2 separate regions of the Homo sapiens genome follow, and region 1 is linked to region 2. The links come from fine-mapping of genetic effects on gene expression. Tissue or cell type: whole blood. Region 2 holds a variant in brackets; the other region holds the start of a gene. Each region is shown on its reference strand, or each on the opposite one.

Evidence for each region.
Region 1: CYP2C8 starts here. The variant in region 2 is fine-mapped to the expression of CYP2C8 in whole blood (TOPMed, PIP above 0.99).

What each region holds. Positions count from the first base shown.
Region 1 is chr10:95,067,495-95,072,857 of GRCh38, reverse strand. CYP2C8 (cytochrome P450 family 2 subfamily C member 8) reads left to right here and starts at 3,361. Exons shown (of 9, transcript NM_000770.3): 1 at 3,361-3,623; 2 at 5,167-5,329. The coding sequence starts at 3,456. RefSeq lists a cis regulatory region at 1,526-1,546 and a promoter at 489-3,456.
Region 2 is chr9:94,298,544-94,303,925 of GRCh38, reverse strand. It overlaps ZNF169 (zinc finger protein 169), which reads right to left. Exons shown (of 5, transcript NM_194320.4): 5 at 2,097-4,111. The coding sequence ends at 2,556. Among named protein-coding and RNA genes, the nearest start is that of NUTM2F, 27 kb to the left of the region's middle. The variant G/A (reference allele first, on the strand shown) is at 3,227.

The DNA of each region.
Region 1 (5,363 bases), not on the chromosome of region 2:
CATCTAAGGCACTGATAAAACCAAATGTTGGCAAGGATTTGAAGCAATGGGAACTATTAGTTATTGCTGATATGAATGCAAAATGTCACAGACACTCTGGAAGAGAGTTTGGTGGCTTTTACAAAACTAAAATATGCTTACCATATGATCCAGCAGTTGTGCTCCTTGATATTTGCCAAATGAGTTGAAAACATATGTCCACACAAAACTTGCACAAGGACATTTATAGCATCTTTATTCATTATTGCCAAAATTGGAAGCAACCAAGATATCCTTCACTAGATGAACAGATAAACTGTGGTACATCAATGCAAGGGAATATTATTATATTACTATTTGGTGGTAAGAAGAAATGAGCTTTCAAGCCATGAGACGACATGGAGAAACCTTCTGCATATTAATAAGTGATGGAAACCTGCCTGAAAAGGCTACATACTGTGTGATTCCAACTATATAACAATCTCTTATAGTAAAGGCAAAACCATGGCAACACTAAAGTGAACTGTGGTTCACTTGTTACCAAGGACTTGCATGGAAGGGAGAGAATACGCAGAGCATGGGGGGTTTTTAGGACAGCAAATCTATTCTGTATGATGCTACGATGGTGGATATATGGCATTATACATCAGTCAAATTTATAGAATGTACAACACAAACAGTAAACCCTATGTGAACTTCGAACTTTGGTTGATGATTATGTCTTATTGTTGGCTCACTGACTGTAACTAATGAACCCCACTGATGGGGGTTGTTGATTGTGGGAAAGACTATTTGTAGGTGTGGTGAAGGGGTTTGTGGGAACTGTTGCTCGGAGCCTAAAATTGCTATAAAAATAAATTCTATTAATTAAAAAAAAACCCCGCTCTAATTCACAACCCTATCCAAGCTGAGGTGGGTGTCAATCTGTGACTGTAGAGGGCTTAATTAATGCTAATACACTCTTGATCATTTGGACTTAGGTGGGAATTCTATAGGATAGGGTATTTCACTGAACCACCAAGCAGGAAAACTGGGATTCTAATACAAAATCTTTTACTGGTGCATTGATAATGCTCTAACTCACTGAGTCACCAATTGCTCATTCCTGAAAAACAAAGCAAAATTAAATTAGTAGATCTCAGAGATCCCGTCTGTCTTTAAATTATCTATGTTCCTTTTATTCTATAAAAAGAAAGGTCAAGGCAGGAGCCTCAGCTCAGGAGAAGAAACAAGGAGCAGAGCAAGGGCAACTGTTTCTCAAGGAATAAAATTATTGCTCTAAAGAGAGAAAGTGAACTTATTTTATCCAAATAAACTAGCTTATACCTACGTGAGTGAGGCAGCAAATTACTACTTCCCTTTGCCCTGGATAAAGGGTTCACCAGGACCTGGACTCACTCACCTTTTAAAGGTTATAAAACCAAACACGTCTGACCCACATTTTACTCAACTGGTGCTAGAATTATTAACTAAATTAATGTTTATTTTGAAAGTCACTGATTAGATTAATCCACAAGTATTGAATTTTAGTCAATCTTGGTGGCCCGGTTTAACTGGATGTTTTGCTTAAAAGGAAGGCAGCAAGATGCAGGGGTTATGGTTTCCAGCCCCAGCTTGGTCACTTGCATTCTGTGTGTCCTTAGCTAAAGTACTGAATCTCCATGGTCTAACTTTCTCCTCTCTAAACTGGGAATAATTTTACAGTGGGCAAAGATAATTGAGAGAATAAAAAGAGATGTGATGAGTGTGAAAATTCTCTGTAAATTTGTCATAATGTCTATAAACATAATCGATAAAACATTGTATAACTGGGTCTTAATATTTTCTTAATGAAAGAGCTGGAAATAACTGTACTGGTCAATTTAGAATAAAGGTAATCTTTTCAGAGCATGCCTTTGTATACACACTTTGTTATTAGTGATCTAGTAATGTTCATAAATCCAGTTGTATTTAGATCTTCATGACCATTGACTATCAGTTCCCATTTCAGGTCTGCACATTGCAGTGGTTCTGTGCCCTGGGTCCATTCAGTGATTTCCCTGTGTTCCATCTTCTGTTGAATCCACAACTGTTGTTCTGTGTATAATTTCTCTTCCTTGCTGTGTATGATTACATTCTATTATTTGTAACAATAACAGACCAAAAACAATAGAAGCAGCCATGTCTGGAGGTGACTGGAAGGTGGAGAAGCCATAGATTTTCAAGCCCTGTGCCATAAATTATGTGAGATTGGCCCTTTCCTTAATAGTGCTGAACAACTTTCACTTGTGAGGTGATGCAGAGGGGAGAACTCTAATTTTTATTTCTTCTTTTGAGCGTCTCCGGTCCTCTTATCCTTATAAACAAATAACGGACTTCTATTTAATGTGAAGCCTGTTGCTTTCTGAACAGAGTCAAGGTGGCGTATCTTCAGAGTAACTAATGTCTGGGGTTTGTTTTGTTTTTCTAAAATTGTTCTTGAGCCAGCTGTGGTGTAAGTGGTAATGAACCCCAATGGGTATCAGAAGATCTCTGCTCAAATCCCGGTTTTACCGGCAATGAGCTGTGTGGCACTGACAGGTGTCCTGTTCTCCCAGAGTTTCTTTCCCAATTTGAAAAATAAAAAATGATAATCTTTATACTCCAGTCTCTTTTAATGATGAATATACATTTATATATATACTTTTATATATTTAATATAATATTTAATAGTATAAATATGTATTTATGTTATTATTATGTAATAATGTATGTAACACTCCCTGCTAATTCAGTTTGTCTCTTTGACATGTAAAGTAAATAATCACCTATTATTATAATAATGTAATAATAACACAAATATTATTATGTAATAACATATATATTTATGTATATTGTTTATATACATTTAAATATATATAAATATACATTTATTAGCTAATAATTTGATATATGTATGGTAATTCAACATGTATGAGTTATATTCACTATTTCATGTTTAGGCAGCTGTATTTTAAGTGAACTATACTAAATATTTGAAAGGCTTTTGTTATCAAGGGCTAAGTCTCCTATTTTTTGATATAGCATTACAATGTACATTTTTTATACACAAAATATAGAATACACTGATTTCCCTCAAGGTCATAAATTCCCAACTGGTCATTAATCTGAGAATATTGAATTTTGAGTATATTCTAACATAGAATCATTTACTTCAGTGTTTCTCCATCATCACAGCACATTGGAACAACCAGGGACTTTTAATTAAAAATACCTGGGCTCCAATCCAATACAATTAAACCAGAATCTCCTAGATTGGCACTGGAAAGAAGGAGTAGGACAAAAGAACATTTTATTTCTATCCATGGGCCAAAGTCCACTCAGAAAAAAAGTATAAATTGGATCTAGGTGATTGTTTACTTTACATGTCAAAGAGACACACACTAAATTAGCAGGGAGTGTTATAAAAACTTTGGAGTGCAAGCTCACAGCTGTCTTAATAAGAAGAGAAGGCTTCAATGGAACCTTTTGTGGTCCTGGTGCTGTGTCTCTCTTTTATGCTTCTCTTTTCACTCTGGAGACAGAGCTGTAGGAGAAGGAAGCTCCCTCCTGGCCCCACTCCTCTTCCTATTATTGGAAATATGCTACAGATAGATGTTAAGGACATCTGCAAATCTTTCACCAATGTAAGTCTGCCTTATGTTCCTCCAGCCAATTGCAAAGGGTAAGTTATTTGACTGCTATTTTTAGACAAAATATATTCCTGGAAGCACACTATTATAATAGATCATTGTAAAGCAAAATACTCCCTCTGAACTTCTTTGATGTTTCTTTTGTCTTCCTATTTTTTTTTTTTTTGAGACGGAGTCTCGCTCTATTGCCCAGGCTGGAGTGCAGTGGCACTATCTCCACTCACTGCAAGCTCTGCCTCCCAGGTTCACACCATTCTCCTGCCTCAGCCTCCCCCGAGTAACTGGGACTACAGGTGCCCTCCACCATGCCCGGCTAATTTTTTGTATGTTTTAGTAGAGACAGGGTTTCACCGTGTTAGCCAGAATGGTCTCAGTCTCCTGACCTCATGATCTGCCTGCCTTGGCCTCCCAAAGTGCTGGGATTACATGTGTGAGCCACCGTACCTGGCCTCTTTTGTCTTTCTAAGTCTGTCATTGTCAGAAATAGCGGAGTGAGTTGATGCATTTTGTGAATACAGAAACATTGGGGTCATTGTATTATATAATCATTTAATACAGTGGCAAAAGTTTAAAGTGCTGTTTCTCCTCTTTGTTTCACAGTGTTTTGCTATGATTTTTGACTGAAGGTGAAGGGAAGTGTGTGTGATTAGAAATTTCATCCAATAAGTTCTCTACTATAGTAGTCATGTGTTTTATTCAGAATGGTCATGAAAATTGAACTTCTCTGAAGATTCATTTGATGGCTGATGTGAAATAAATATCTGTGGGTTCAGGGCAAACATAAGTGCATGAAAGAAAGAAGTAATCAGTCAGGGCCCAATAGGTAGTTAACAGAATTCTTTTGGATTCTGAAGAAAGCCACTGTCTGTGGCCAAGGTTGCTGGAGAATGGAAGAAATTGTTCTTCCAGGAGATGCTGAATGTCCTGATTCTAACTTTGTGGTGCTTCATCGTTCCATATTGGTAATACCAGCAGTTACAAACTGGACTGGGCATTAGAATCACCTGGGGTGACACTGTAAATACAGATTTCTAGGGTTCATCACAGGACTGCTGTATCAGAATCCTCATGTTAAGAGCTTTACAAGTGACCCTGAAGTCTTTAGCTGGGTAGTGGCCTCAAGGTGGACATGGGGGATTGATTAATTGCTCAAGCATCAGTTTAAATTAGCAGAGATTCCAGTTTGGAGCTTCTACATATTACCTGTGGGACTCTGAGAATGAATCTGCAATTCTCTGGCCTCAGTTTCTTCATTTTTAAAACAGGTCAAATGAATGTGCTGAATGTGTTGAAGTGAGGATGAACTGTGTGATTTGTGTACCAATTGCCTGGGTCATTGCGTGGCACATCACAGGCCATCTATAAGTGGCAGCTATAACAATCACCATCACATTTATGTACAAAATTCAGAAATATCGAATCTATGTGTGGCAAATATGAACATTAAAAAATACAATGAAAATGTCAGTCTGAATCATACATAGTATTTGGAGCAAATAGCGACTTATTTTGCTGCTATTTGCATTTCCTTTCCCAGTTCTCAAAAGTCTATGGTCCTGTGTTCACCGTGTATTTTGGCATGAATCCCATAGTGGTGTTTCATGGATATGAGGCAGTGAAGGAAGCCCTGATTGATAATGGAGAGGAGTTTTCTGGAAGAGGCAATTCCCCAATATCTCAAAGAATTACTAAAGGACTTGGTAGGTGCACATATTTCTGTGTCAGCTTTGGTAA
Region 2 (5,382 bases):
AAAATACAAAGGACCACTGTGCAGAAAGTAAAGCATAAACCAACTATCTCATGATCAATGAAGGAAAGCAACTCTTTTTCCTCCATTCCATATCAGGAAAGTGGAACATCTGTTATTGATTTCTGCCATCTTCACACTTATGGAGAAAGGAAAGGAATTCAAGAGAGCACTCTTATGGCAGGCGCTCACGGCTAGATACGAATTTTGGAAGTCCAGAAGGCAGAGTGTTATGGACTAAATTGTGTCCCTCCCCACCCAAATTCATATGTTGAATCCCTAATCCCCAGTGTGACTGTTTTTGCATACAGGACATTTAAAGTTGTAATTAAGGTTAAAACAAGGTCTTTAGGGTGTTGCCCTAATCCAGTATCACTGGTGTCCTTTTAATGAGAGACACCAGGAAAGTGTGTGTACAAAGAATAAGCTATGAGACACCACAGAGGGAAGGCAGCCATCTGCAGGCCAAGGAGAGAGGCCTTAGTAGAAACCAAACCTGCCAACACCTCATTCTAGGACTTCCAGTTTCCTGAACTGTGAGAAGATAAATATTCTATTGCTTAAGGCACCCAGTCTGGTGTTTTCTTATGTCAGCCCTAGCAAATTAATACAGATTTTGGTACTGTGATTGGGATGCTTTGTAACCTAAAATGTGGAAGTGACTTGGAACTGGGTACTCGGTAGAAAGAAGCTACAAGAGTTCTGAGGCACATGTTAGGAAAAGCCTGGATGACCTTTAAAACACTGTTGGTAGGAATGTAGATGTTAAAAGGTTCTGGGCTGGGTGTGGTGGCTCACACTTTGAGAGGGCAAAGCAGGAGGATCATTTGAGGCCAGGTGTATGAGACCAGCCTAAGCAACATAGCAAAAACCCGTATCTACAAAATGTTTGGGGTTTTTTTTTGTTTTGTTTTGTTTTGTTTTTAATTTTAAGGTGATTGTGGTTAAGTCTCAGACAGAAATGAGGAATGGGTAATGGGAAACTGGAATCCTTGCAAAGGACTTGCCCAAATTGCGTTCTAGTGTTTTGTGGAGTACAGAAATTGTGAGTGAGGCAGTGCAGAATATTCAGGTGATATTTCTACACAAAGTGATGCAAGTGGAGTCTGTTTTCTCCTTGCTGCTTATAGTAAAATATTAGAGGAGAAAGATAAATTGAAGGAACTGTTAAGCAAAAAAGAACCAGTACTTAAAGATTTGGAAAATTCTCAGCCTGTCCGCATTGCAAAAAATGAGAAAGTATGTTCTTGAAAGAACACTAGGGTGTGGCTGGACAACCATGTGATAAAGAGATTAGTATAGGTCTGAATGGAACCAATTAACCATCTCACCAGAAATGCTGCCAGCTTGAACTGAATAGAGAAAGAGACAGGACAAAAATGAAGGCAGGCTGTTAGACTTCTGGGATTCTACGGGAAGGTACAATAGAGCTATCCAGTTGCAAACGCACGTTAATCTTCAAGAAAAGGGAAGAATGTGATTCTCAAAGGTTCTAATGGGCCCAGAGAGTACAGGTCTAGAGGGCAAGTGTGTCTCCTCCTCAATTTCAGTGGGCCAGGAGCCGCTGCCAAGGGCCAAGGGAGCGACACTGCAGCTCCCGTGAGCCTAAAAAGCAGGGCTGCCAATCCAGTTGGCCCAGAAGGCAGAGCACTGAGCCAAAGGGGATTATTCTCGAGACTTAAAATCTAATGGAAGTTGCCTTGCCAGGTTTGAGACTTGCTTGGGATCCATCATTCTTCATTTCTTTCTCATGTCTTTCCTTTGGAATGGGGAAGTCCAGCCTCTGCTTGTCCCACCATTGTAGAATATTGTGGAAGCAGATATCTGTCTGGTTTCACAGGATCACACCTGGAGAATTTTGCCTAAGGATGAATTGTACCTAAAGTCTCATTCACACTTGATTTAGATGATATTTAAATGAGATTTTGGATCTAGAGGTGAAGTTGAAATGGGTAAAGAATTTTGGGACTGTTGGGATCATGTGAATGTATTTTGAATGTCTGAGGGACCTGAACTTTGGTAGTGGAGTGTTATAGACTAAATTGGGTTTCCCAGAAATTCATATGTTGAAGTCCTAACTGTGTAGTGTGACTGTATCTAGAGATAAGGCCTTTAGGAAGGTTATTAAGGTTAAACGAGGCCATGTGGCTGTGGCTCTATCCAAAATGACTGGTGTCCCTAGAAGAGGAGGAAGCCACACCAGGAAAGCATACACACAGAAAAAAGCCCACGTGAGGACGTGGCCAGAAAGCAGCCATCCGCAAGCCAAACAGAGAGGCTTAAGCAGCAGCCAAACCTACCAATACGTTCATCTGGGACTTCCAGCCTCCATAAATATGAAAATATATTTCCGTTGTCAAAATCACCCAGCCTGGGGTACTTTGTTATGGAACCCCTAGCAAGCCAAGACAAATTGTGAATATAGAAAGTAAACCAAAAATCAACTATCTCATGATCGATGAAAGAAAGCAACATTTTTTTTTTTCCATTCCATTTCAGGAAACTGAAGCATTTACTAGTGATTTCTGCCAGCTTCACACTCACGGGGAAAGGAAAGGTCAGAAGACCTCTTGGGGTAGGAGCTGATGACCAGACTTGGTCCTCCTGTGTCTATGCAAGTGAGACTTCTGGCTAAAGCCACGCCCACACTCCCTGCAGACATACGGCTTCTCCCCAGAATGGGTCCGCTGATGTCGGATGAGGGCAGACTTAAAGCCAAAGCCGCGCCCACATTCATCGCAAATGCAGGGCTTCTCTCCTGAGTGTGTCCTTTGGTCAGAGATAAGGTGTGACTTCTGGCCAAGTCCTTGTCCACACACCCTGTCTACGTAAAGCTCCTCCTCTGAGTGTGTCCTCTGGTGTCGGGTGAGGAGCGACTTAAAGCCAAATGCACGCCCACACTTGGGGCACAGATAAGGCTTCTCCCCTGTGTGTGTCCTCTGGTGTCTGATGAGGGTGACCTTCTGACCAAAGCCACGCCCACAATCAGGGCACAGGTAGGGCTTCTCCCCTGTGTGTGTCCTCTGGTGTCCAATGAGGGTGACCTTCTGGCTAAAACCCCGCCCACACTGGGGGCACAGGTAAGGCTTCTCCCCTGTGTGTGTCCTCTGGTGCCTGATGAGAGTGACCTTTTGGCGAAAGCTGTGCCCACACTCAGCACAGACATAAGGCTTCTCTCCTGAGTGTGTGACCTGGTGACTAAGGAGGAGTGACTGCTGCCTGAAGCTAC[G/A]CCCACACTCAAGGCACAGGAAGGGCCTCTCCCCTGTGTGTGAGCTCTGGTGCTGGAGGAGTGATGCCTTCTGGCAAAAGCCTCTCCCACACTCAGGACACACGAAGGGCTTCTCCTCCAAGTGCGTCCTCTGGTGTAGAAGGAGGGCTATCTTCTGGCGAAAGCCTCGCCCACACTCCTGACATACAAAGGGCCTCTCCCCGGAGTGAATCCTCTTGTGATTAGTGAGAGAGGATGTATACCTGAAGTGTCGCCCACATTCCCTGCACACATACGGCTTCTCCCCCGAGTGCTTCCTCTGGTGTATGGAGAGGGAGGCCTTCTGGCTAAACCGACGCCCACACTCAGGACACAGGTATGGCTTCTCCCCGGTGTGTGTCCTCTGGTGCTTGATAAGGTCTGATCTCTGGCAAAAGCCTCTCCCGCATTCAGGGCACACATGATGCTTCTGGTGGCTGAACAGGCTTGACTTTTTGCTAAGTCCCAGTCTATAGTTTCCACGTATGACTGCTCCAGATTCTGAAGTGTCTGCTCCCTTCAACATTGTGTCTGACCCCCCAAGACTCATCCTTTGGGCCAGGCGAAGGTCTGTTCCTCCTTCTCTGTTCCCTTCTACCCATTCTACTGGGTCACCTTGATGTGGGCTGAAGAATGTCCTAGAAATTCTGCTTGGCCTCTTTCTTAATGAGCTGTCGGGGCCTTCTGTCTCTCCACTTTCTCCTTTTTCACTAGAGCATCTTGGAGCTTCTAGTTGGAAGTCACCTCCTGCAGATGAGCTTGGGAAGATCTGTGTGGGATGGCCACTTAGCGCATATTGTCTGAGGAGCTGCGAGCTAGAAAAGGCCACCAGGTGGGGAAAACTTGGCTGGAATTCTGTTCTAGGCTCTGCTAGAGAGAAAGTCTTGGTCAGAATCACCACAGGTGACCATGGATTGTAATACCTGCCCAGCAGTTTTCTTCAGATGTTCACAACAAAGACTTATCTTCCAACCCACAAGGGCACATTACATGCTCTATTGCAGCACAGAAAACCCACACTACAAACTAGTCCTATCAGCCAAACTAAAAGGTTCAAAAAAGCATCACAGGCAGCTTCAGCTCTATAAATTGCTGCAAGTAGAGTTACACATTTATCTTCCTTTCTTGGGCGCCGCTCCCTTGCTTTTGCTCCAGCTCAAGCCTATTAAACCTTGCCTGAGAAACATTTGTTCGGCCTGCTGTTTATGCAAGAGCCAAGAACTTGGTGTCTGAGCTGCAGTTAAGAAACAGACTGATTATGATCTTGAAGGTGCTATAAATAAGATCTTAGCATCTGAAGGGGAGCCATGCTTTGGGCTTCCTTGACTGTGGTGACTCAAGTAAGGGGCACCCACGAATCAGATAAGCTGTAGCAAGAGATACTGGCTCCTGTGTGGAATAGGCTTTAGGCCAGGGAGCTTCCATATCAGCCTGATGTGAGTTGTCTCCTGAACTGTATGGACACCCTTAAGTCCTCTTGAAGAAGAGGAATCCCTGATGCTGCCCTCCGGGCAAATGAAGGTGCTGTCCTCTAGCCTCTGGGAAGACTGCAGCCAAGTATATTCCCCGAATAGCATTGCACAACACTACGTACACTGTTTTGCTCAATAATCCAGGATTTTTAAAAAAATCTGGTGAATTAAGGAGAAGCTCAGCGTTTGAAAGTTAATAATAGATGACTTCTCATTAGCATAAAGATGTTTCAGGGATTATACATATTTCGGCTTAAGCATATTCTTATCCATGCACAAAAACTGTTAAAACTATACAAATTGACTTTTTCAAAAAATTTTGTTTCTAGGTTTAAATAGGCTGCCAATTGGAGATAACACTAATTCCCATGATGGTATAAATTAAAGGCTCTGGAAATTGGCAGTGCTTTCAGCTTCCGTAAGTTGATACCGTAACTCCTAGGTAATTATTGACTAAGTTCTTTTTTTTTTTTTTTTTTTTGAGACAGAGTCTCGCTCTGTTGCCCAGGCTGGAGTGCAGTGGCGTGATCTTGGCTGACTGCAACCTCTGGTTCAAGCAATTCTCCTGTCTCAGCCTCCTGAGCAGCTGGGATTACAGGCGTGCACCACCATGCCCGGCTAAGTTTTGTATTTTTAGTAGAGATCGGGTTTCACCATGTTGGCCAG